Linked DNA regions of Homo sapiens. The protein of the gene in region 1 purifies or fractionates together with the protein of each later gene. This does not show direct contact. Each region holds a gene or a part of one and is shown on either strand. Other genes may lie near its edges.

The links. The genes of interacting proteins can lie anywhere in the genome.
Region 2: the proteins of TM4SF5 (region 1) and SLC31A1 purify together in Homo sapiens (affinity purification with mass spectrometry; one large-scale study listed by BioGRID and IntAct). This does not show direct contact.
Region 3: the proteins of TM4SF5 (region 1) and HSDL1 purify together in Homo sapiens (affinity purification with mass spectrometry; one large-scale study listed by BioGRID and IntAct). This does not show direct contact.
Region 4: the proteins of TM4SF5 (region 1) and CYSTM1 purify together in Homo sapiens (affinity purification with mass spectrometry; one large-scale study listed by BioGRID and IntAct). This does not show direct contact.

What each region holds. Positions count from the first base shown.
Region 1 is NC_000017.11:4,774,221-4,779,470, reverse strand, and holds part of TM4SF5 (transmembrane 4 L6 family member 5), read right to left. Parts: intron 1-5,250. UniProt on the Homo sapiens protein: Acts as a lysosomal membrane arginine sensor.
Region 2 is NC_000009.12:113,223,380-113,228,629, reverse strand, and holds part of SLC31A1 (high affinity copper uptake protein 1), read right to left. Parts: intron 1-5,250.
Region 3 is NC_000016.10:84,124,324-84,129,341, forward strand, and holds part of HSDL1 (inactive hydroxysteroid dehydrogenase-like protein 1), read right to left. Parts: intron 406-5,018; coding exon 307-405; 3' UTR 1-306.
Region 4 is NC_000005.10:140,180,524-140,185,773, forward strand, and holds part of CYSTM1 (cysteine-rich and transmembrane domain-containing protein 1), read left to right. Parts: intron 1-5,250.

The sequences.
Region 1 (5,250 bases):
TATCAGGTTAAACATAGCTTTTTTTTTTCTTTCTTTCTTTTTGAAACAGGGTCTCACTCTGCCACCCAGGCTGGAATGCAGTGGCTTGATCGTGGCTGACTTTAGCCTTGACCTCCTGGGCTCAAGTGATCCTCCTGCCTCAGCCTCCTGAGTAGCTGGTATCGCAGGCATGCGTCATCATTCCCAGCTAATTAAAAAAAATTTTGTAGACATGGGGTCTTGCTATTTGCTCAGGCTGGTCTTGAACTCCTGGGCTCCTCCTGCCCTGGCCTACCAAATTGCTGGGATTACAGGTGTAAGTCACTGCATCTGGCCTAAACATAGCTTTCAACTGGTCTTTTCTCTGCTCAAATCCTTTAGGGTCTCTTCACAGAGAAGCCCATCAAGACTGAACTCTTTTTTTTTTTTTTTTTTTGAGACGGAGTCTCACTCTGTCACCAGGTTGGAGTACAGTGGTGTGATCTTGGCTCACTGCAACCTCCACCTCCCAGGTTCAAGTGATTCTCCTGCCTCAGCCTCCTGAGTAGCTGGGACTACATGCACATGCCACCACGCCGGGCTAATTTTTTGTATTTTTAGTAGAGACGGGGTTTCATCATGTTGGCCAGAATGGTCTTGATCTCCTGACCTCGTGATCCGCCTGCCTCAGCCTCCCAAAGTGCTGGGATTACAAGCGTGAGCCACCGCGCCTGGCCAAGACTTGTAACTTGAACGCCTAACTCTTGTAAGGCATTTAAGCCTCCTCATCTGGCTCCGTTACCTTTATCTTCGTTGCACCAGGTCAGGTTCTTTGCCTGTCTCCTATCTCTGGAATTCCACAGCTGTCTTGCTTCTTGCTTTCGTGTGTGTGTGTGTTTGCTTTTTGAGACAGGATCTCACTCTGTCATCCAGGCTGGAATGCAGTGGTGCAATCATGGCTCACTGCATCCTCAACCTCCTGGGCTCAAATGATCTTCTCACCTCGGCCTCCCGAGTAGCTGGGACTAAAGGTGCGGAACAACATGCCTGGCTAATTTTTTTGGAGAGTTCATGTCTTACCATGTTGCCTAGCTGATCTCGAACTCCTGGGCTCAAGCAATCCTCCTGCTTCAGCCTCCCAAATTGCTGGGATTACAGGCATGAGCCACTGTGCCTGGCTCCTCATGTGTCTTATCTGGCACATACCATCCAAGGCAGCATTTTGTGCTTCTCCAGGGAAAGGGCTGAGAGTTTCAGTTCTATTATATCATCCCCAGCAACCTCAGAGAAACACCTGCTCTCTCTTCTTCCTGTCTCATGGCAGGGCCAGGACCCATGCTGACACCTTACTTTACCTCCCTGGTTAGGTCACTTACTGGAGGCTTGTGGATCCAAACACACCTAGAATTGCCTTTTGGATTTACCAATTTTGAATGATCTACTTGTCTGAGGTTTCTGCTTTTGTTTGAGAGAGGGTCTCACACTGTTGCCCAGACTGGAGTGCAGTGGCATGATCATGGCTCACTGCAGCCTCGACCTCCTGGGCTCAAGTGATCCTCTCACCTTAGCATTAGAGTAGCTGGGATTACAGGCTTGTACCACCACACTCAGCTAATTTTTTCTTTTTTGAGACGAAGTTTTGCTCTTGTTGCCCAGGCTGGAGTGCAATGGCGCGATCTTGGCTCGCTGTAACCTCTGCCTCCCGTGTTCAGGTGATTCTCCTGCCTCAGCCTCCCGAGTAGCTGGGATTACATGCATGCGCCACCACGCCCTGCTAACTTTGTATTTTTAGTAGAGACAAAGTTTCTCCATGTTGGTCAGGCTGGTCTCAAACTCCTGACCTCAGCTGATCAGCCTGCTTCGGCCTCCCAAAGTGCTGGGATTACAGGTGTGAGCCACCGCACCTGGCCAGACCCAGCTAATTTTAAAATTTTTGTTGAGATAGAGTCTCACTATGTTGCCCAGGCTGGTCTTGAATGCTGGGACTCAAGCGATTCTCCTGCCTCCACCTCCCAAAGTGTTGGGATTTTACAGGCATGAGCCACCACACCTGGCCCTATTTGAGATTTTTACTCTTTTGATTAAAGTGTTTGCTTCCCTTTGTAGTATGTGCTTCTCTGTCTCATTCTTCACCATCTTTTTGTCTTAGTGAAAAGTGTCATCATAAATGAAGAAGAAAACACTGTGCTTATAGCCTGAATCAGCTCATATTTCTCCATTTCCATAGCCACTGGCCTAGTCCAAGCCACTCTCATCTCTCCTGGATGTCTTCCGTGACCTCAGTTTGGTCTTTTCTTTTTCTTTTTTTTTTTTTTTGAGATGGAGTCTTGCTCTGTCACCCAGGCTGGATTGCAGTGGCATGATCTCGGCTCACTGTAACCTCTGTCTGCTGGGTTCAGGAGATTCTCCTGCCTCAGCCTTCCGAGTAGCTGGGATTACAGGCATGCACCACCATGCCCTGCTAACTTTGTATTTTTAGTAGAGACGGGGTTTCGCCATGTTGGTCAGGCTGGTCTCGAACTCCTGACCTCATGATCCGCTGGCCTCGGCCTCCAAAAGTGCTGGGATTACAGGCTTGAGGCCCCACGCCCAGCTCAGTTTGGTCTTTTTCTGTATATATTGCAGACCTTCTACTACCCATTCTCCACACAGTGGTCAAAGGAGTCTTCTTCATTCCAGTGGCGTGTGGAGCAACCAGACCTCTCACACTAAGAACTACAGAAAACTGGCAATATCTATTAGCGCTGAATACTTGCATGTCTTAAGAATCAGCAGTTTTACTGCTAGGTTTTTATCCAATAGAAATGCACACGTATTTGTACCTAAATACATCTACAAGAATATTTATAGCAGCATTATTTGCAAAAAAACCAAACTGGGAATGATCCAGATCTCCTTCAACAGTAGAATGGGCCGGGCACAGTGGCTTATGCCTGTAATCCCAGTACTCTGGGAGGCCGAGGCAGGCGGATCACCTAAGGTTGGGAGTTCAAAACCAGCCTGACCAATATCGCGAAACCCCGTCTCTACTAAAAATACAAAAATTAACTGGGCACGGTGGCACATGCCTGTAATCCCAGCTACTCAGGAGGCTGAGGCAGGAGAATCATGTGAACCTGGGAGTCAGAGGTTGCAGTGAGCCGAGATGGCGCCATTGTACTCCAGCCTGGGTGACAGAGCGAGACTCTGTTTCAAAAAAAACAAAAAAGCAAAAAAGCAAAAAAACAAACAAACAAACAGTAGAATGTATAAATGAGGTATAGTCACATAATAGAATGTATAAGAAAAAAAGAAAACTACAGCTACACCTGATAATATGGGTGGCTCTCACAAACGTAATATGGAGCTAAAGAAGCCAGACACAGGCCAGGCGCGGTGGCTCACGCTCGTAATCCCAGCACTTGGGGAGGCCGAGGTGGGTGGATCACCTGAGGTCGGGAGTGCGAGACCAGCCTGACCAACATGGCGAAACCCCCATCTCTACTAAAGTAAATACAAAAATTAGCCAGGCGTGGTGGCTCATGCCTGTAACCCCAGCTACTCTGGAGGCTGAGGCATGAGAATCATTTGAACCTGGGAGGCGGAGGTTGCAGTGAGCTGAGATAGCGCCACTGCACTCCAGCCTGGGCAACAGCTCCGTCTCAAAAAAAAGCCAGACACATACTCTATCATTCCATTTGTGTAAAGTGCAAAATAAGCCAAACTCGTCTATGGGGTTAGAAGACAGAATAGTGGTTACGCTTGTTGGTGAAGTGATTCTGGGGTTCCGTGTGTGGTGAGAAGCATGTCTGGGCTTCTGGTAATGATCTGTTTCTTGACCTGGGCTCAGATGTGCTCACTTTGTAAAAGTTTGTTGAGCTGTGTACTAAGGATCTGGGTACTTGTCTGTGTGACTTAAATAAAAAGTTTTAAACCGTCAAAAAACAAAGTGCCAAAAGTCCTTCAATAGGGCATGGCGCGGTGGCTCACTCCTGTAATCCCAGCACTTTAGGAGGCCGAGGCGGGTGGATCACAAGGTCAGGAGATCGAGACCATCCTGGCTAACACGGTGAAACCCCATCTCTACTAAAAATACAAAAAAAAAAAATTTGCTGTGCGTGGTGGCGGGCGCCTGTAGTCCCAGCTACTCGGGAGGCTGAGGCAGGAGAATGGCGTGAACCCAAGAGGTGGAGCTTGTAGTGAACCGAGATCGCACCACTGCACTGCAGCCCGGGCGACACAGTGAGATTCCGTCTCAAAAAAAAAAAAAAGTCCTTCAATAGTTTTCTGTTGTACTTATAATAATAAAAATTCAAATGACTCCACTGTGGCTTTTCAGGGTGTTCCAGGCCTAGCCTCTGCCCTCCTCAGACCTCATCTCATTACATCTCACCTCACCGGCCACCTGTCTGATCCTCAGAAGTGTAGAGCTTGTTCCCACCTTAGGCTTTGTACTACCAGCCCCTAGTGTCTGCAACACTCACACCTTCTTCTTGTCATTTGGGTCTCAGTTCAGACATCACCTCATAGAGCCTGTCCCTGAAAATCCTATAAAAAGTGGCATCTGCTTTGCCTAGGAGCTCTTCATGCCAGCACCATTTCATTTTATTTTTATTTTTTACTTTTGAGACAGAGTTTCACTCTTGTTGCCCAGGCTGGAGTACAATGGTGCAATCTTGGTTCACTGCAACCTCCGCCTCTCGGGTTCAAGCAATTCTCCTGCCTCAGCTTCCTGAGTAGCTGGGACTACAGGCATGCGCCACCACGCCTGGCTAATTTTTGTATTTTTAGTAGAGACAGGATTTCTGCATGTTGGTCAGGCTGGTCGTGAACTCCTGACCTCGGTGATCCGCCTGCCTCAGCCTCCCAAAGTGCTGGGATTACAGGCATGAGCCACTGCGCCCGGCCGATGGTACCTACTTCTATCTGAAATTGCCTTGCCTAGTTCTATACTTCATTCAATGACTTTTTTATTTTTTATTTTCTTGAGACAAGGTCTTGCTCTGTTGCCCAGGCTGGAGTGCAGTGGCGCGTGGTCATAGCTCACTGCAATCTTTCATTTCTGGGCCCAAACTAGGACTACAGGCACACGCTGCCATTCCATGACTATTAATTGGGTGTCTGTTTAGTGCAAGGTGCTGGTCTAGCACTGGGTACATAGTGGCCAACAAAGCAGGCAGTGCTTGCTCTCGTGGGACTTCCAGCCTTGCTTCCGTGAGACTGGTGGCCTTACCAAAGGGAACACAAGCTTCAGGGAGAGCAGGAACCTGTCTGTGTCCCTGTGATATACAGCAGTGCTTATTTATTTGTTTA
Region 2 (5,250 bases), on another chromosome or scaffold:
GTTCTGGTGGCAAATAACATAGAAGCTCCTATTTCTCTTGCCCACTCCCACCCTTCTGTACAAAGAAGATCAAGTGTACAACTACATTCTTCCAAAGGCCTTTACAAAAGCTTTTATTTGCCTGGTTCTAATAGGACAACTCAAATTTGATATGTCAAACAAACAAACTGAAAAGGTCTTTTAGTTATGTAATGATAACAGGGCCTAAGTCCAATGGGGAGTGGATCTCCCAGCTACTTTACTCCATTTCTGTGATACCTTTTGTTGTTGGGTAAGCCACATCCTGGAATAATGTAATCACATGATGCACCCTTTCATGCTCCTCTTACAGGATCCTTTTGTAGCCTTGACGCACTTCCAGTCCGCTAACTGTGCTTTAGTATGATTTATGTGACAATTTCAGTGTTTTCTAGATAGTATCTTAGAGTGGAGAAAGCATGCAGCACGAGGCATCAAAGGCTCTGAGCTCTGGACCCACATTTGCCATATACTAGCCATGTGACATTAGGCAAATCACCAAAATTTGCAAAATTTGCAAAACAGATATTAAAATACCTACGCTGCCAATCTCATAGTATTGTAAGGGTCAAATAAAATATGTTAAATACTTTCCAATTTTAAGGTACAGTAAATATGAAATATAATAGCTTGCTTGCTCATTAGATGACAAAATTAATCTCTGAAAGGAACTAAGTCACACATAAGGCTCACTTTCATGTTTCTTGAAGTATACAGCCTTTCACAGTTTGATTTAAACAAAACTAGCTAGTCAGACAAATATACATTGGCAAAGCATTGCTTTAACTGCTTTATTGTTATAATCAAATGTAGACAATGGTCCTCCTTGTCTAAACTTTGCTTTAGTTATATTACATAGCATTTAAACTGTTTGGATAATAATGTTGTTGGTTTGCCTATGAGTAATATTGGAAATTAATATGGCATAAGACAGAAACTAGAAAACATTTGAACTGTTCCCTTTTTTTTATTCAGTAGGAAAATGCAATTAAATATGTTACACAAGATAAAAGGAACTTGAATGATTTAATGAAAATGCAGTACAAGAATGCAAATGAGGCTGGACATGGTGGCTCATGCCTGTAATCCCAGCACTCTAAGAGGCCAAGGTGGGCAGACTGCTTAAGCTCAGGAGTTTGAGACCAGCCTGGGCAACATGGCAAAGCCCCGACTCTATCAAAAATACAAAAAATTAGCTGGGCGTGGTGGTGCATGCCTGTAGTCCCGGCTACTCGAAAGGCTGAGATGGGAAGATTGCTTGAGCCTGGGAGACAGAGGTTGCAGTGAGCTGAGATTGTGCTCCTGCACTCCAGCCTGGGCAACAAAGCAAGATCCTGTTTCAAGAAAAAATAAAAGAAAAAAGAAAAAAATTGTTCAATATCTCAGATAGAGGCTGTATGGTGTGGCAGTAAAAGTACTGGGCTAGGAACTGAAAGAGGTTCTACATCTGCATTCTAGATCTGGCTCTTAGGTCTCATTTGCTATGCAATTTCAAGGAACTCAGACTATTCTTTCACTATTTATTGCATACCTATCGAATGAAGGTACCATGATGAAACTCTAACCATAAGAAACCCATTCTGGTGAAAGAGGGACACATGTAAATAATTTAAAAATAATGTAAAATGTACTAAGGTATAGATTATGCATAGGGGTTGTGTGAGAACTCATAAAAAGCCATCAGAAAAGGTAGGAGAGAGGATGCGGGTGTATGAGTTACACCATTTCCCTTTCATTTCATAAATTAAATGACTACATTCTAGATGCTGTAAACTGCTTCAAAATTATATAAACACTCATCATAGTTCTACAATAACTCTTCTATCTAGGGAAATATGTCACCTGTTGCTAGAATTTTGCTCTCTTTATATGTTCCCTCCAAATCATTTCTCATATTTACTTTTGAGATTCAGGCTTCCATCTTACCATGCTGTATTTCATAATGTCCTAAGCCTACAAAAGCAGGTTGTATACAAAAGCCTAGGGCCATTGTGTAAAGGAAAAGAGGTAGGGTGGACCCTTCTCAACCCTTTCCTTCTCTGCAGGGCTTTGCATTCCTAAGGATGGGCCCCTCCTCTGCTTGGGGATGTTACCTAAATCATAAAATGATATTACTCAAAGCAATGGAACTTCAAAAGCATTTCCTTCCCAGGCCCTACTATAAGATTTCTTTTGGCATAAACTGTTCATTGTAATGTATTAAGTATCAGACTTTTGATGACTTGTTATACTTAAGTCACAAAACTACAGAAAACTTTTAAGTTTTTAAAATGGATTTAAGAGCTGCATGTGGGAGTACAGGCATCAGGAACCCCCTACCCCTTCCCTCCCTTTTCCCCAGTCAGGCCTGCCCTGTCCACTTTAAAATGCAGTTATTTGGGTGATGCCCTGTTACTAACTTAACTGACAACTGCTAGTTGAAATCAACTTGTCACTGTAAACACTTTGCTTTCTTTATTTCTTTTTTTTTTTTTTTGAGATGGAGTCTCACTCTGTCGCCCAGGTTGGCGCACAGTGGCGTGACCTCAGCTCACTGCAACCTCCGCCTCTCCGGAGCTCAAGCAATTCTCGTGCCTCCGTCTCCTGAGTAGCTGGGACTACAGGTGCCCGCCACCATGCCTGACTAATTTTTGTATTTTCAGCAGACACGGGGTTTCACCATGTTGGCCAGGCTGGTCTCGAACTCCTGACCTCAGGTGATCTGCCTGAGCTGGGATTACAGGCGGGAGCCACCACACCTGGCCGAACACTTTGCTTTTCTAGTGATTATTATATCATCTTTCTCTCTTGTAGCACTTCTGGTGGGAAAGGTGCAAAAAGGAATTAACAGTAGAGATGAGTCTCTGATTCCTAAGTCCTTCTCTACCAAGACTTCCAAGTTGGACAAAAGAGGTAGAGAAAGACTTAGGAATCAAAGACTCTTATGAGTATGGTATCTACTTTCAAAACAGTCATTTCATTTTATTCACATTTAGTATGGAAACTTTATTTTTCTCAATTCAAAATTGAGATTATAATCCAAAGGAAAGCTGAATTGAAAATTTTAACAGATTAATACCAGTGCCCCAAGTGGTGTTTACCATGCCTTCACAACAACCTCATGTTCTAGGGGCCATTAGAAAATGAAGTGGCTACTGACATGGAATGGAGCTAGGGAAATGTAACTTTTTACTTCATACACTCCTAAGCCATTTGAACTTTTTTACATCAATCATGCCATTTAGAATAAAAAATTCCACTTCCTACCAATCTAAGTACAAACTTGTCACCTTGACCTTCAAGGTATTTGACAAATATGGTCCTGGATTCCTTTTCAATTTTAATCCATTACTTTCTTCTGTGAACTGTTGCCTTATACTCTTAGCAAACTATCCCACAGAACTCTCTTATCCAATTTAACTGACATCACACCATTAGGCTATTCTCCAATGTGATGGGAACAACACTTCTGGTTCCCCCTCTGTGAAGTGTGCTTATCAATGGTGACAGTGTGTTTATTCACAAACCTATTTATGCCAGTTGTGCTTATTACTGAAAGTACGTAAATACTATGTAAAGCAATGAAGTATAAATGAGAAGAGAAAAATGACAGCAGCAATTAACACTGAGTACTTACTACCTGCCAGGCACTGTTCTAAATGCTTTACATGAATTAACTCCTATAATATTCACAAGAAACCTAGAAATGGATACTACCATTATGCCTGTTTTACAAAGGCAAAAACTGAGTAACTTGTCTATGGCCTATACAACTAATAAGTGGCAAAGCAATTTGGCTCCAGAGCTCAAGTACTTAACTACTGTACTACATAGACTCTCTAGTAGTTATTTCTAAAACACCACACTGAATGCTTTCGAAAGACCAGATAAAAGTGAGCACACAAGGCCGGGTGCGTTGGCCCACGCCTCTAATCCTAGCACTTTGGGAGGCCAAGGCGGGTGGATCACCTGAGGTCGGGAGTTCCAGACCAGCCTGACCAACATGGAGAAACCCCGTCTCTACTAAAAATACAAAATTAGCCGGGCATGGTGGCACATGCCTGTAATCCCAGCTACTCGGGAGGGTGAGGCTGGAGAATCGCTTGAACCCGGGAGGTGGAGGTTGTGGTGAGCCGAGATTGTGCCATTGCATTCAAGCCTGGGCAACAAGAGCGAAACTCTGTCTCAAAAAAAAAAAAAAAAGTGAGCATACAGATAACACATAAACTTGCTGTTAGGTGTGGGAGACAACAGAAAAGTCTGGAAGGACATTTCATAAACACCTAGAAAGATTCTGCAGTGAGACTGCTTTGCAAGTGACTTTAAGTATTCATTCCATGTTAAAAATACCATAGATAACGTAGGCCAGGGGCTAGCAAGCTCTTTCTATAAAGGGCCAAAAGTAAACATTTTAGATGTTGCAGGCCATGTGGTTTCTGTTGCAATCACAAATATTCAATTCTGCCTTGGAGGGTAAGAGGAGTCATAGACAATACATAAACAAATGAGAAAGGCTGTGTTCTAATAAAGCTTTACTTATAAAAACAGGCAACAGGGTCCTACACTCCAAGAAAAGGCTGAGGCCTTATGTTAAAAGAATGGCAAAAGAATGTTTATGTGTTCGTTAAAATGTTATGCATATAACTATTATCTGTATGATTCCCTGCTTTAACTTACTTCTTCAGTTAACCAACTAATGGCCCTAAGTCTGCTTTCAGTGACTGAGTGAACGGAATGTTATAGATCCCCTAGAACCTGCATTTAATTCATATTCCTATCATTATGCCTGATATAACTTGGTTATAACTTTAAACTACTAATTTTAAAATGCATGCATCATTACAGATTAGTATGGGTATACTCGTATATAAAGACTGTCATCTCTGTTGCAAAATTGCTGATAATTTGAAAATAATTATTAAAATTGCTGCTTCCCTGAGGGAGTAAGGGGAGTGGAGGGTGGAGAAAAAAAATTGCTGCTTCCTGGCCAATCTTCTGGGGGTTGACAATATATTTTATGAGTATTCTAAAAGTTGTATACTTAAGCAAAACAAATAAACAAAAATGCTTACTTTAAACTTGAGATCAAGGTTGTGCCTTACTTACCTTTGTATCCCCAGCAGTTACTCAGTAGAAGTCCAGGTCTAATCCACTCATTTTACAGTGCTTAGGGAGCCTGGCCCAAACTCAGAGTGAGTTATAAGGGCTGGGACAGGAATTCAGATTTCCTGATTCCTAGTCCAGTATTACCAA
Region 3 (5,018 bases), on another chromosome or scaffold:
TCAATATTAGACTGCTGTGGCTCTAGAACAACAGAAAAGCGTAACTTTCAAACAGCTTAGGGAAAAAGCACTGAAATGTAGATGTCGTCAATCAGCCTCAGGCATTATTGATCCTGTGCCATCCACACACCCTTAAGGTTTTTCACAGCACTCTGACGGTATTATGTGTGTTTTGCAAATGACGAATCAACAGTATGCTGAATAATCAGCAATGAAACACAGGAGATAAATTAAATGTGTTTTTCCAAATGTCAGAATATCGAGGTTCCCAGGAGTTGGCAAAACTTCTCAAGTGGCCATCCAGACTCAGGCTGTGCAGGATAAGGCTTCCTTACGTAGTGAACGGTTGAGAATATTTGCTCCCCACACCCAGAGCCATTCAGGCATATACTGTGCAAAAAGAAACTAAAAATGAAAGAGAAAAAGGTTGTAAGGTTAGAACCCAAAATCAACACTGAAGGAACAAGTACACAGACCAGCACATGAAACCCACCAATCACAACAAATACCCACCAATCAATCACAACAAATACCCACCAATCACAACAAATACCCACCAATCAATCACAACAAATACCCACCAATCACAACAAATACCCACCAATCACAACAAATACCCACCAATCAATCATAACAAATACCCACCAATCACAATACACACCAATCAAACAAATACCCACCAATCACAATACCCACCAATCAAACAAATACCCACCAATCACAACAAATACCCACCAAGCAATCACAACAAATACCCACCAATCAATCACAACAAATACCCACCAATCACAACAAATACCCACCAATCACAACAAATACCCACCAAGCAATCACAACAAATACCCACCAATCAATCACAACAAATACCCACCAATCACAACAAATACCCACCAATCACAACAAATACCCACCAATCACAACAAATACCCACCAATCAATCACAACAAATACCCACCAGTCACAACAAATACCCACCAATCACAACAAATACCCACCAATCAATCACAACAAATACCTACCAATCACAAACACCCACCAATCAATCACAATACCCACCAATCAATCACAACAAATACCCACCAATCACATTACCCACCAATCAATCACAATAAATACCCACCAATCACAATACCCACCAATCAATCACAATAAATACCCACCAATCGATCCCAACAAATACCCACCAATCACAATAAATACCCACCGATCAATCACAACAAATACCCACCAATCAATCACAACAAATACCCACCAGTCACAACAAATACCCACCAATCACATTAAATACAACAAAGGAAAAAGCCTCCAGGTACTACTGTACTGAATACCTACTTTTGCCTAAGATCTTACCCTAGATTCTACATGGAACAGAAACATGACCACCACCCACCTACCCGACTTTCTGTAATGAGGCTGGACTGTCCTGCATGTAAATACAATTCTGTCTTTACTTAACGTGATATGAACAAAATGTTCACTGGTTAAGAACCACAAAATCGGCTGGGCACGCTGGCTCATGCCTGTAATCCCAACACTTTGGGAGGCCGAGGCGGGTGGATCATGAGGTCAGGAGATCGAGACCATCCTGGCTAACAGGGTGAAACCCCATCTCTACTAAAAATACAAAAAATTAGCCAGGCGTGGTGGCGGGAGCCTGTAGTCCCAGCTACTCAGGAGGCAGAGGCAGGAAAATGGTGTGAACCGGGGAGGCGGAGCTTGCAGTGAGCCGAGATCGCGGCACTGCACTCCAGCCTGGGCAACAGAGCAAAACTCTGTCTCAAAAAAAAAAAAAAAAACACCACAAAATCATTATAGGAATAAATCAGTTGGAACAGACAGACGCATACGTGGTTAGTACTCTATGAGAAAACTGGGGCTTGAGGGGTAGTATGGAACAAAGTTCAACAAGAAAACAGGTCAGAAACACCAGTACCTTGGGATGGTATCTTGACCTATGATGGGGGTGCTCAGGGGACCAGGGAAGGGAGTCCTGCTGATGCTGCTCTGCTTCAGGGTCTCACTCAGGGCCTTTGTGCTAGCAGCAGACATAGGGCAATGTCTGAAAACAAATTTGGTCGTCACACTGGGAGTGGATGCTACTGGTATCTAGTGGGTGGAGGCCCAGGATGGTGTTCAACATCCTACAATACACAGGACGCTCCCCATGTCAAGGAATTACCTGCTCTCAATGCCAACAGTGCTGAGGTGGAGAAAGCCTACACTCCTCTAACAGATTTGTTCAGAACCGAATGAAAGTTCTAACACCGTGTATACGAAAGAGAAGAGAGACAGGCCCTTGGCAAGTACTGACATTCTAGTCTTGAACTGAACTGATGAATGATAATAGAGGTCATTCAATCCTCTTGTCAATAAATGGACACAGGTTACTCTCCAGGGAGGACACACCCACACCCACACACACACACACTCACGCACTTTGTGAACAAAATCACAGCAGCAAAAGCTATCAGAGAAATATGCCATGGACAAAACAGCAAAGGATGAATCAAATCTTTGATGTAAAATTGGAAATAAAAAATGATAGTGTTGAAAATAATTTGAGTAACATAAAATGAAAACAGAAAGTTTTAACAACTTTATACAGAAAACTACTCCAGGAATTAAATCAGCTTAACAGAATTTCTTGGCAGAAAAATACATTCTCAAGGAAAGTTTATCAATGTGAACAAAATTTAATTTTGAGTAAACTGTTCGTGTTTTATAAACACAGTCAAAACATCTACTGCACCTAAACCTGATCCTCATATCTTTATTTCTAAAAAAATTTTATGGTCAGTGACTTCTAAGACTACTTTTTAGGTTTCTCTGCTTTTCTCAAGTAATTAAAGGACCTGGAAACAACTACTTAAATAAAACTGTTTCTTCTTTTTTTTTTTTTTTTTTTTTTTTTGAGATAAGAGTCTAGCTCTGTCACCCAGGCTGGAGTACAGTGACGTGATCAGCTCACTGCCACCTCCGCATCCTGGGTTCAAGCGATTCTCATGCCTCAGACTCCCAGGTAGCTGGGACTACAGGCGTGCACCACCATGACCAGTTAATTTTTATATTTTTAGTAGAGATGGGGTTTCACCATGTTGGCAAGGCTGGTCTCGAACTCCTGACCTCAGGTGATCCACCAGCCTCAGCCTCCCAAACTGCTGGGATTAGAGATGTGAGCCACCACCACGCCCGACCAAAACTGCTTCTTATTAATCTCTCACTTTTCATAAAAGTCATAATTAACTGTTGATATACTTACATGTTTATTTGGTAGTGGCAAATCTAATACTCTTCATGCAAACAGTCCCAAAAATATCTGTTTGATAATTAAGAAAACTCCGAATATTAAAAAAAAAAAAAAATTCGGACCAGGTACAGTGACTCACACTGGTATTTTTTTTTTTTTTTTTTGTGAGACGGAGTCTTGCTCTGTCGTCCAGGCTGGAGTGCAGTGGTGTGATCTCGGCTCACTGCAAGCTCTGCCTCCCGGGTTCACGCCATTCTCCTGCCTCAGCCTCCTGAGTAGCTGGGACTACAGGCGCCCACCACCACGCCTAGCTAATTTTTTTGTATTTTTAATAGAGACGGGGTTTCACGGTGTTAGCCAGGATGGTCTCGATCTCCTGACCTCGTGATCCGCCCGCCTTGGCCTCCCAAAGTGCTGGGATTACAGGCTTGAGCCACCACGCCCTGCCAGCTCACGCTTGTAAATCCCAGCACTTTGGGAGGCCAAGGCGGGTGGATCACCTGAGATCAGGAGTTCGAGACCAGCCTGACCAACATGGTGAAACTCCATCTCTACTAAAAACACAAAAATTTGCTGGGCGTGGTGGCAGGCACCTGTAGTCCCAGCTACTCCGGAGGCTGAGGCAGGAGCATCACTTGAACCCGAGAGGTGGAGGTTGCAGTGAGCCAAGATCGCACCATTACACTCCAGCCTGGGCAACAAGAGCGGAATTCCATCTCAAAAAAAAAAAAATTCTAAACTAGGGCACATCTCTTTACTACACCAGATAAAGGAACTGAAATATATTGTAATAGATAATTATGCATTCTCAAATTAATACTTACGATCACAATTTCAAATATCTAAGAAAGTTACTTTCTACAGTACTAAAAGGTACCAATCCTTTGTCATGCCTAAACAATAAGCTTAAAATAAAAATTCTATGCTTCTTGAAAAAATTAGTCTAAGACTATACAGAGATATTATTTGATAAAATGGTTGCATGAAATATAGCCCTATCTTGTGGTTTTGTGGTTTTTTTGGATTATATTTTTCACTGAGAGGTAACCCTCAAGCAGTACTAGAATCTTTTACTTTGAAATTCCCATGTAAATACTTAGTATTTTTATAGTCCTAACATCCACTTACAGCAGCATATTTCTTTTTTTTTTTTTGGAAACAGAGCCTTGCTCTGTCGCCTAGGCTGGAGTGCAGTAGCGTGATCTTGGCTCACTGCAACCTCCGCCTCCAGGGTTCAAGCGATTCTCCTGCCTCAGCCTCCCAAGTAGCTGGGACTACAGGCACACACCACTAAGCCTAGCTAATTTTTGTATTTTTAGTACAGACAGGGTTTCACCATATTGGCCAGGTTGGTCTCGAACTCCTGACCTTAGGTGATCCACCCACCTCAGCTTCCCAAAGTGCTGGGATTACAGATGTGAGCCACCACACCCCAGCCAAAGTAGTATATTTCACTTTAAGGTGCCACATAGATTGAACTTTTGAAAATTCTTAAGGTAATAATTTCACAAAAGAAAATTTAGTGTCTTTGGTCAGGCACGGTGGCTCACGCCTGTAATCTCAGCACTTTGGGAGGCTGAGGCAGGCAGATCATGAGGCCGGAGATCAAGACCATCCTGGCTAACACGGTGAAACCCCGTCTCTACTAAAAATACAAAAATTAGCCAGGCGTGGTGGCAGGTGCCTGTAGTCCCAGCTACTCGGGAAGCTGAGGCAGGAGAATGGCATGAACCCGGGAGGCGGAGCTTGCAGTGAGCTGAGATCGCACCAC
Region 4 (5,250 bases), on another chromosome or scaffold:
ATAAACTGACCCTCCCACTTTACAACCAAAAATGTTCACACCATTTTGGGCACTACACAAAGGAGTCTTCAAAAGGAAGTGAGCTTGGAATGATTCCTTTATAGCTTTTAGGAGATGTATGTGGAATATTATTATTGATTTAGGCCTCCAAGTCAGATCTTGGAAACTGGGTAGGTCCTCACATCTAAAGCAAAGGAGACAAATGGTTTGAATCCAGTCTCTGTGGGCAGCAAGCTTGTGGTATGACTTTGCCAAAACAACAGATGATTTATATTTTTCTAAACTCTTTTCATTAAATGGTTTAAGGGAGAATATTGATGGTCATGGTGGGAGGAGGGTTTGATCTACCTGAATTTACTCACTGAAGAGTAAATGCCTTATTCAGAGGTTCCTATCACTAGTTTCCTGATTATTTGTACTAAAGAATCATTAGCCAGTCTCAAGAGCATTGGCTCAGAAAACATCGTAACTGAAAACTATCTAGGCATGCTTCTTATTCAGAGAAAAGTAGGGATGGGAAACAGTTGAACTACAAAGACATTTGGGGAGAGGAAGACCTGGGAAATGGTGCTAGACTTCTGCCACGTTAAACGTTTAATGCTGCACGCAGTACTTTACTGGTCAGCTTTCAGTTTCAGAATCTTAGGCAGAGTCAGTTGGGGAGAAAGTGTGTGAAGAGGGGGACATTTGTAAGAATGTGGCTATTCTGTGAGCCCTTATTGTTAAGTCGAATACTTAGTGCTTTCCTGCTGCCACTAGCTTCCTGGACACTCCAGACTTTGCCCTTCTGCCTCTTCCCCACTAACAGCCTTTCCTCCCCAACACCACCCTCTCTAAAGCCAATCTAATCTTTGATCGCAGTTTCTGCACCCTTCTGGCTCTGCTAACTTTGTTGAACTAATTTTTGGTGGCCTTTAATGTCTGGTGGTGGCTGTGTGAGAAACTAATGAGGGATAATTGTATTTACTTACTGATTATTATTTTGCTTTAGGGACAATCTGCCAGACTGGAGTGCATGGCATGATCATAGCTCAGTGCAGGCTCAAACTCCTGGGCTCAAAAGATCTTCCCACCTCAGTCTCCTGAGTAGCTAGGACTACAGGCACATATCACTGTGCCTGGTTAATTTTTTATTTATATTTCATAGAGATGGGGGTCTCACTATGTTGCCCAGGCTGGTCTCAAACTCCTGAGCTCAGGCAATCCTGCTGCATGAGCCACTGCACCTGCAAGAGCCACGGGGGCCACTGCCACTGCAAGATAGCAGGACCCCCGTCTGTATTTTTTGCTATGTTGACTAGGTCTTGCTATGTTGACTAGGCCATTCTTAAAGTCCTAGCCTCAAGGGATCCTCCTGCCTCAGCTTCCCAAAGTGCTGGGATCACAGGCGTGTGACACCACCTTCGGCCGGGTAGTTGTATTTAAAGGGAGGGTCTTGAAAGTAAACCCTAGTGTTTTTCACACTTCATTTGTGTTCCCCTGCATGATTTTTGTCTTATCTTTATGTCATCTGTACTGTTGTTTAACATTCTTCTTAAAGTTGACCCATTTTTTAAAACCCTAAAATTTGTTTAAAAGGGAAACGATATCATTGCCTTAAACTGATAACTACTACATCACCTGTCACAAATAGAAGGTATAAATTATTGAAGTTGTTTGTCCATGTTCCCCAAGTTCCACATATCCCACCTGGGGCAATACAGCCTTTACCCAAAGATATGACTCACTAATAGTGAGTTTTTCAGGCAGCAGTAGATGGGTGGTAGGATGGTTTGGAGTAGGCAGGCCTTCAGAGAGGGCCCCTTCAATCCTATCTTTTCCTAAAACTTGTGTGGTTCTATGATACTAGGAAGGCCACAGAATGAAGAATCTAGGAGGTAACAAGAGGTAAATGCAATGTGAAACCACTTCTGTTTTGATCTGAAGTTTGCCAAAAAGAGGCCTGAGTGGTGGTGAGGCTGTATACTATATTAAATTCTAGGCCCTCTGCCAGGGGTGTGGCTTCATTGATGCTGTGTTACATTGTTCTTTCTGTGCCAGCGTGCTCTTAGAAAACTCAGATTCTCCTGGGAAACTCAGATCTTTCTTGGGGGGCAGGAGGGATGCTTTTTTTTTTTTTAACTCATCAATAACCCAAACTACTTTGAGTTCCTTTCACATATAGAGAACTGTTTGTGGATGTTGCTAATGATAGAAACTGAAGTTATCATCTAGAATTTTTTTCCCCCAATCTTCATTGTCCGTAAAGCCTATTCCTTTAAGAATCCTATGAAAACAGAAGAAAGGGGGAGGGTGAGCTGCCCTGGGTTGTATGGTCTCTTAGGGTGCAGCACATGATAGGCATGAGTGGTACTTCCTGGTTTGATGTGAAATTCACTGTTGTCCATTAAGAGCCACCCCGCAGTGCTGACTGAGCTGCTGCTCCCTCAGAGGGTCAGGAGAGCGTGCTTTCATGATGGAGCAAAGCCAGGCTGGCTTGGTATTCATCAGGAACCAGGAGCGCTTAGTTAAATTGCCAGCACGTTAAGCTGTAGGGGCCTCTTTCTAAATCATCAAGATTTCAACTTTCCCACAAAGCCTAATCTAATGCTCTGGGAGGAGGCAGGCAGAGCCTGTCTTTCAGGGGCTGGGCTGGCAGGGGACCTGGCCTGGGAAGTGGCCTTATCAGGCTTGTTGGGAGGGATGGACCTGTCCCTTTCTAGTGTGTCCTCTCAACTTGGCAGGGGGCAGAGTTCTTCCCTTTTCTCTCTCTCCATGCCCTAACCGCTCCTTTCAATTCCCCAACTCACTTTCTGTGTTCACAGCTTTCTTCCCTTTTCCTTTCCCTTCTGTTCAATACTGCCCTCTCTTTTGAGCCTCTCTCTTGCTGGGCCCCATTTTCTCTCCATTCTCACTTTGAGGGTTGACTATTTGAAGTTCCAATTATAATGCTGTCCTATATGTCCCAGTGACTAGATGTAATTCAGAGATCCCTACCCTATTTTTCTGAGGAGAAGCCAACCTTCATTTCTCTACTGGCTTTCAGATAGCAGTGTTGGTGGGGTACTGACCAGAGTCCCTGAACTGAGTGGTTGGGTGAGGCTGGATGTGCTCCTCCCCGATATGGGGGTCCCAGCAGTATGGGGAAGGTATTATAATCAGGGTTTGCTGACAATGCCAGGATCCATTAGACAAGGGGCTGAGGCTTACCTGTGGGGACCCTTCCATAAGCTGAATGCAGAGGGGAATACTGCATCCAGGCAGTCCTCTAGCTTTTGCAGAGGACCATACATGATGAATGAAGGCTGGAGAAGGAGCCCTTGGGTGAGGTTAGCCTGGAACCCACAGGACTATTTGCAGCTGTGGATCCTGCCCTGAAGCTAGGTTTTCCCAGGTAGCAACTGGACCAAATTGTCTTCCCATGTGGTTAGATGGATTGTTGGAAGCATCTAGGAGCATGGCTTTCCTGCTTAATGAGTTAAAAAATTGATTATTTTCTTGTAAAAGCCATGTGGCTACTTTACCTAAAGATGATTAGCAAGGGTTTTAACTTTCATTGTTAAATATAACATATGTATAAAAAAGTATGTATAATGTACAGTTTAATCAATAATTGTATTCATTAGTGTAACTGTGTGATCTATTCAGGTTTAGAAATAGAAGTTTATTTTTAAACCCAAATGGGGTAATAGAATGCACTGTGTTGCAATTTGTTTTTTTCCCACCATGTTGGTGCTTTTTCATATCAGCACAGGTAGTTCTAACTTATTCTTCTGAAGCGTCATATAGCAGCAGTTCCATGGATTGGAAATACCATGGTTTATTTAACCATTCTCATATTGATGAACATTATATTTAATATATATGCATGTGTATAAAGTTGGGTTTTTTTTTTTTGGCATACCGGCTGGCACTAGTATATATCTGTAAGATAAATTCCTAAAGGTAGAATTGCTCGTTCAAAGGATAGGGTGTTTTTATGTATTTATTTGGGGTTTTACTTAAAAATATGTCTTTATTGAAGAGTTTATAAGAAAAAAGGATAGACCCGCTATAAAAAGAAAGGCTGTCTGCTCTAAACATTAGGGAGGAATGGGACACCAATACCTGGTGGCTAAGGATAGGTCATTTTAGTTGTTGATATTTTCAGGTAGTAATGTCTTTTTTCCCAGGAATGTTTATAAATGTTATATCTTACAGAGCACCAAGCCCTGGATCCAACTAGAGGTTCTTTACAGAAAGCTTTATGGAGAAAGGTTTTAGCAGATGATATGTTATCCTCTGTTGAAGGGAACTTCTCTGAATTCCCTCAGAAAGTCTCTAAGTCTGGAAGAATGCTAAAATGTACCTACCAAGTTTAGTATTGGAGGGAGACAAGATTGACTGTAGTCACATTTTCAAATAATTCTGAACTATGGATAATTAATGTAGGTATGGTATGACTTTTCAGAATTTGCTGTTCCTAATCTATCAGGACAAGTTGAGAATACTTACATCTTTGTGTTATCTTAATGTTGGGGATAGCGGCTTAAAGCAATTATCTGAATGGCATTAGCAAACTATGTTACTAAATAGTTTGTAGATTTTTAGCTTCATATGAACTCAGTTATAAAAGCAGTGTGTGGTTTTTGTATCAGATATTTTTTGTGAGAAAGGAAAATAAGACAGTCTCTGAACCTCTTCATCACTCTGGGCCAGGGCCTTCAGAGGTAGATGATCCATTGTTAGTTTTTGCCTTCCATGTGCACTTTGATGCCCTTGTTCAGCGAAAGGTCCCATATCTGAGCTGTGTATCATTTTGTACTCCATAGAGGGGCTATTGTGAAGCCACAGCCAAAATGTTGATACAAAAGATACGTTCTAATACTTATTCATTCATTGACTATATGAGAATAGCTCAGGGCCTGGTAAAACTCTGGCAAACAAGAGATATTGAATGAAGTAGGGGATGGCTAATGATATTTGGGAGGTTGAGACCAGAATCAGTATTTGGACAATAATGGAGTAATACTGCAGGTTGTCTTCCTCCAGTCTGTCCCTAAAAGAAGAGCAATTTAGAAAATGGCAATACCCAGCAATGTGTTTAAAATGCTGAGCAAGTCGTAAAAAGAAATATCTTGTCCACGTTATGCTGACTATCAGAGGTCTCCTGGTGTTGCACTGTTACTGGGAGCACTGCTACCATCTTTAAAAATGTAAATCCCTGCTATTGCTATCCCCCTGGGGCTCCTGTGTTAAAGTGTCCATATCAGGAGCAAGTTCTTCCTAGGA